Linked DNA regions of Homo sapiens. The protein of the gene in region 1 purifies or fractionates together with the protein of each later gene. This does not show direct contact. Each region holds a gene or a part of one and is shown on either strand. Other genes may lie near its edges.

Region 1 (3,500 bases):
CATGGTTAAATTCCCAGGACCCTCAGTTCTTTAGGGATGGACTAAATGGCTGCTATCATTGCTTATCTTGTACTTGATGGAGCTTATGTTGAGAAACAATGTTTATGTTTTTAATTTTTTATCGTTTAATTCCATTTTACCACAAACTTTTTGAAGTTCCATCATATTTGTGTGAGTTTACTCTATGCCCTTTTGTGCGTGTATCTGTGAGTATCTTGGTGTTTGAGTGTATTCATGTGTGTTTTTTTGTGTGTCTTGGTGTGTTCTTGTGTGTTACCGTGTGTTAGTGAGGTGCATTGCTATGTGTCTGGGGTATTAACCCACAAATGTCTAGGGGTATTGACATGGATATATCCAGCTTTGGTGTATGGTGATGGAGTTCTTGGGGCTCTTACCTGCCTTTGGGTCCTCTATGAGCTGCAGCAAGTCCCCAGGGTGCCCATTCAGTGTGAAGCAGATCTTCTCTTCTGAGTGTGGGATTTGGATCACAAAGTGGGGGTCCCCGTCCACTGCAAGGCAGAAGATACAACTCTAAAGTTAAAGGAATAAATGGAAGGGAGAGGGAAAGAGAGAGGAGGGAAAGGGAAGAGGTTATGTCTATTTCCCCAGCCCCAGTCCCAGTGCACAAGCTGCCCTGTACTCAAACAGGGGAGCCATGGGGGTGACTGGCTTACCTGAGGAGGAGAAGGTGAAGATGCTAGGCAATGTGCCTGCAAAGGAGAGAGAGACTGTGTTGGGAAGGGACTAATGTATCACATTCCTAGGAATTCTGGGACATACTCCCAGATAAGGGCCAAATTCCTGTGTTCAGCATTTAAGGCTTTTCTGAAATCTAGTCCCTGCCTAGCTCTCCAGTCTTTGTGCTCTAGCCCAACCAAACTATTGTTATGAGTGTCCTACCTTCTCTTCCTAGTGACCCTTTACTCCTGTTTTTCCTGCCACCTGGAATGTTTTCCTTTCCCTTAACTACCAAGGATGAATTTCTAGTTATCCTTCAAGGCCAGCCCAAATGCTCTTTTCTCTTGCTCTCTGCCTGTGGTAGGTAGAATTCTAAGATGGCCCACAGGATCTCTTGGTGTACACACTCTGTAAAATCTCCAGAGCTGTGAATATGATGAAATATCCTCCCAGAAATAGGTTATTTCATGTGACCCTATTGAACTTATGAAGGGTATATTATCCAGGTGGGGCCTGACCTAATCACGTAAGCCCTTAATATTTGTATCTAGAGGTCAGAGACAGAGGAGTCAGAGAAATTTAAAGTGTGAGAAGGGTTTGGCATTAGGGGAATGCTCCATAGCTGCCTTTGAAGATGGAGGGGGACCACATGGCAAGGAATGCAGGAGATTTCTAGGTACTGAGAGTGGCCCCAGGTAACCTCTTGCAGCTGAGAGCGATCCTCCAGCCAACAGCCAGCAAGAAAATGGGAACCTCAGTCCCAGCAACACAAATAACTAAATTCTGCTAACAACGTGAATGAGTGTGGAAGAGGATGAGAGCTCAGTGTGACAGACACCTTGATTTCAATCTTGTGAGATCCTGAGCAGAGAATCTAACTAAGCTATTTCTAGACTACTGACTAACAGAACTGTGAGATTATTAATTGGTGTTGTTTTAAGCTACTAAATTTGTGATAAATGTTACACAACAATAGAAAACTAATACATTACTTCCCTCTGGTCTCCCACAATGTCAATAAGAATTCTAATGGAATGGAAATGAAGGCCCAGGGGATCTTTGTCAGGAGAGCTCCTTGCTCACCTTTTGCTAACCCCACAGAACTTCCTTGAGATTCCATGCTGCCTCCAGCTCCTCCCAGGATCTCCTCAGAATTGCCATCCCAGTTTGGACTTCCTGCCAAGCACAAAAGAAATAAGAAAACCCTTCAAATTCCAGGGGCAAAGTCTCAAAATCTTTCTGACAAGGAGAGCCCTCACTGGCTCTGCAGGTTGACCTGCCCATCTCCAGGACTGGGACCTTATGCTCTCCACAGCCTCTTAATCTCTCAAGCTCAGATATGTTCAAAGTTCTTCCTTATAGCATTTATACATTCATTTGTCCATTCATTCATTCATTCATTCATTCAGGCATTGCTTAGGTATTAGGTATATGGTGGTGAAAAATAAAGACATAGTTTCTGACCTGGTGAAGCTCATAGTTTAGTAGGGGGTGGCAGACATGAATGAAATCATAATTTATCACAAATGGTGATAAATGCTATTGGAAAAAAATAATGAGGTGACTGTGGGAGTTAAACAGAGACCTGAAGTAGCCTGCTTGGGGGAGGGTGGGTAAGGAGATCTGAGCTGAGATCTAAGGCATGAGCTGGAGTTCGAAGGGCAATGGAAGGGATAAGGGCAGCAGGAAGGGGTAGGACAAAGCAGGTCAGATGATTATGAAGCAGAGACAGTAGCTTGAAAAAAGTCCCTGAGTGGAGATGGGGTAGGGTGTTCATTGGAGGGGCAAAATAGAGACCAGTGGGGCTGGAGTTCAGAGAATGGGTGGGAGAGAGTGAGGTCATAGAGGAATGGGGGTAGGGAGCAGATCATGCAGAGCCTGCTGGCCATGAAGAGGACTTTTAACTTCATTCTAAGTACGATGGGAAACCCTTGAGGGATTTTAAGTAGGGAAGGGGCATGAAGTGATTTGTGTCTTTAAAGGATCCCTTTGGCTGCTGGGAGAGACTGGCCTGTAACAGGACAGGAGAGGAAGCAGGGAAACCAGTGAGGAGCCTGGAACAGTTTTCTAGGTGAGACACAATGGTGGTCTGCTGTAGCACAGTGACACTTGGGGTGGTGGGAAGTGGATGGATTTGGTAAATATATTAGAGGTAGCATTGTCAATAACTGAGGATGGATAGGATATTGGAGGGGTGTCTGAGGAGAGAGGCATGTAGAGGATGTCATACCCAAATTTGCATCCCTGTGACTTAGGCACTCTCAGTGGGTTCTAATCCTGCCCTATAAGGTCACCTAGGAAATGTCACTCCTTCTCTTAGGAAGGCAGGATACTGGAGTGGTGAATCACATTCATTCTGTGACCAGATTGTATGAGTTCAACTCTCTGACTAGCTGTGTGACATTGAGAAACTTATTTTACCTCTCTGTGCTTCATTCTCCTCACGTGTAAAATGACGATGTCAAGAAAGAAAGATGTTTCTTGTGAGGATTAAATGAGGGACAAGTACAGTATGTAGAGCAGTACTTGTGCATAGGAAGAGCTCACAAATGTTAACTTATTATTTCATACTTTTTTTGGAAATTAAAGATAATTTTAATTATCTTCCCCAATTCTTCTACCCCTGTCATTAAGCAGGACTATTCACAGAGCACAGAAAAACCAATAAGACCCGCCTCATCCAATGATGCATTCCTCCCCTGCTTAGGAAGCATCAGCAATTCTTTTGTCCAACAAAACAAATGTCAAAGCTAACCCTTGGCCAATTTGTTTCTGTTCAGCCTTCCCAGTCTCAACACTCCTCCTCTCCCAAGGCCTCTAAT
Region 2 (2,641 bases), on another chromosome or scaffold:
CCCCTTGCTAAGTGTCTCTTATTTTTCTCCCCCAGACTCACAGAAAGAGCTGGCCTGACCACCAGGCACCTCACTGGCACTGCTGACCCATCCCAGAAACACAATCTCAGGGACCCGAGCAGCTCCAAGGACGAGAGGATACAGCAGACACAACCTAATAGAGAGGGCGCCTGCAGCCTTAACCTCCACGGCCTTCGATACTTATGCAAGCCTGGTGTTGCTCCTGTCCTCAGAGTCATCCTGCGCTCATGCCTTTTCCCGAATGGGTTCACCTCTGGCAGTTGCCGCTTCAGTCTTGGCCTTAGCCTCATCTTGAAGTGGGTAGCTGGCGGGAGAGGGTGGCTGCGCCCCCTGCTGGCCCTGAGGCTGCAGAGTTGGGAGCAGGACACCTCACCTGAGTTTCATTTTTTTTCATGTCCAAACCATGCACATACTATAGTCCAGAATCAAAGCACTTTTGAAAAGTGGCTGCATGGCCATCCTCCAGGGCCCAGGAAGTTGCATTCCAAGGGCCTGTTTACATGGCAGCAGAATCCATCCCCGGCAGTCAGCCCATAGCTTGGGACCAGTCTGTGCCCTCCTGCCCAGTCCAGTTTACTCCTCTTGGTTCCTGAAGGTGGCCAAGTCATTGTGTTCCCACAGGCTTCTCTAGGCTGGGGGCAGGTGTGGGGCTGTGGAATTCCAAAGCACAAAAGGTGCAGAGGGGATTGGCCTTCCTGTGCCTCAACTCACCAACCACCCTCCTGCCTTCCAGTTCTGCCAGGTGCTCCATGCTGGGGACAAGTAGGAGACTGCCAGGGCCCAAAGAAATGGGTGAGCAGTAGAGTCATCTCGGGGCACTTGGCAGTGTCAAGCACCTGCCCCTTGCCTCCTTGACCACACTGGGGTGGGTGGGCCCCCAGCACTTCAGAGGCAGGAGCCTTTGGGCTGAGCAAGCACTGAGGAGGTGGATGGAAGGGAGCATCTGGAGGGGGGGAGCTTCCTTGAGCAGTGGGCCCAGGCCTGGCCCTCCACACTTCATTCTCTGACCTTTCTCTCTCCTCATTTCGGTGCATGTCCTTTCTGCAGCTGCCTTTCAGCACAGGTGGTTCCACTGGGGGCAGCTAACGCTGAGTGACAAGGATGGGAAGCCACAGGTGCATTTTACTCAAGTCTTCTCTAGTCAATGAGGGGCACCCAGTGCTTCTAGGGCAGGCTGGGTGGTGGTCCCCTAGGTATCAGCCTCTCTTACTGTACTCTCCGGGAATGTTAACCTTTCTATTTTCAGCCTGTGCCACCTGTCTAGGCAAGCTGGCTTCCCCATTGGCCCCTGTGGGTCCACAGCAGCGTGGCTGCCCCCCAGGGCCACCGCTTCTTTCTTGATCCTCTTTCCTTAACAGTGACTTGGGCTTGAGTCTGGCAAGGAACCTTGCTTTTAGCTTCACCACCAAGGAGAGAGGTTGACATGACCTCCCCGCCCCCTCACCAAGGCTGGGAACAGAGGGGATGTGGTGAGAGCCAGGTTCCTCTGGCCCTCTCCAGGGTGTTTTCCACTAGTCACTACTGTCTTCTCCTTGTAGCTAATCAATCAATATTCTTCCCTTGCCTGTGGGCAGTGGAGAGTGCTGCTGGGTGTACGCTGCACCTGCCCACTGAGTTGGGGAAAGAGGATAATCAGTGAGCACTGTTCTGCTCAGAGCTCCTGATCTACCCCACCCCCTAGGATCCAGGACTGGGTCAAAGCTGCATGAAACCAGGCCCTGGCAGCAACCTGGGAATGGCTGGAGGTGGGAGAGAACCTGACTTCTCTTTCCCTCTCCCTCCTCCAACATTACTGGAACTCTATCCTGTTAGGATCTTCTGAGCTTGTTTCCCTGCTGGGTGGGACAGAGGACAAAGGAGAAGGGAGGGTCTAGAAGAGGCAGCCCTTCTTTGTCCTCTGGGGTAAATGAGCTTGACCTAGAGTAAATGGAGAGACCAAAAGCCTCTGATTTTTAATTTCCATAAAATGTTAGAAGTATATATATACATATATATATTTCTTTAAATTTTTGAGTCTTTGATATGTCTAAAAATCCATTCCCTCTGCCCTGAAGCCTGAGTGAGACACATGAAGAAAACTGTGTTTCATTTAAAGATGTTAATTAAATGATTGAAACTTGGCTGTGGCTACTGCTTCTTAATGTGGGGGGGACAGGGCAGTGGTCTGGGCCCACATTTAGAAGGGAAAATGTTTTGCCTGCTGCACACATTGGACCCAAGTATGGGCCTCTTCTGCCTAGTACTGCCAAAGGGACTGTTAAGGTGTCTTGTCCATCTTCTACCCCCCACCCCCCATTACAGGGTAAAGGAACCCCAGACTAGGTGAGGGGCCAGCAGCTGCCTCACACTTGTGTTCTCTCCTGAGATGGTCCAGCTCACATCCAGACACCCTTGTTCAGACATTTTATTTGAATTTATGACAGTGATGGGGATTTGACTGAGATGCCTTATGGAGAAGTACCCCACCCTCTATGAAGACAGAATCACTCTCTGCCATTCATTCTGCCTGATGCTAACAACACGCAGCTGATTTAGGGAGTGTCCCAGCCTAGCTGGATCAAGGGAAATTCCAGGAGCCCTGGGGCAGGCCCTGGCCCCCAGTGCCAAGCCTCAGAGTAAG

What was found. The genes of interacting proteins can lie anywhere in the genome.
Region 2: the proteins of ITIH6 (region 1) and NHSL3 purify together in Homo sapiens (affinity purification with mass spectrometry; one large-scale study listed by BioGRID and IntAct). This does not show direct contact.

What each region holds. Positions count from the first base shown.
Region 1 is NC_000023.11:54,753,256-54,756,755, forward strand, and holds part of ITIH6 (inter-alpha-trypsin inhibitor heavy chain H6 precursor), read right to left. Parts: intron 1,855-3,500; coding exon 1,762-1,854; intron 711-1,761; coding exon 675-710; intron 510-674; coding exon 396-509; intron 1-395.
Region 2 is NC_000001.11:32,772,830-32,775,470, forward strand, and holds the end of NHSL3 (NHS-like protein 3), read left to right. Parts: intron 1-35; coding exon 36-58; 3' UTR 59-2,141; downstream 2,142-2,641. UniProt on the Homo sapiens protein: Able to directly activate the TNF-NFkappaB signaling pathway.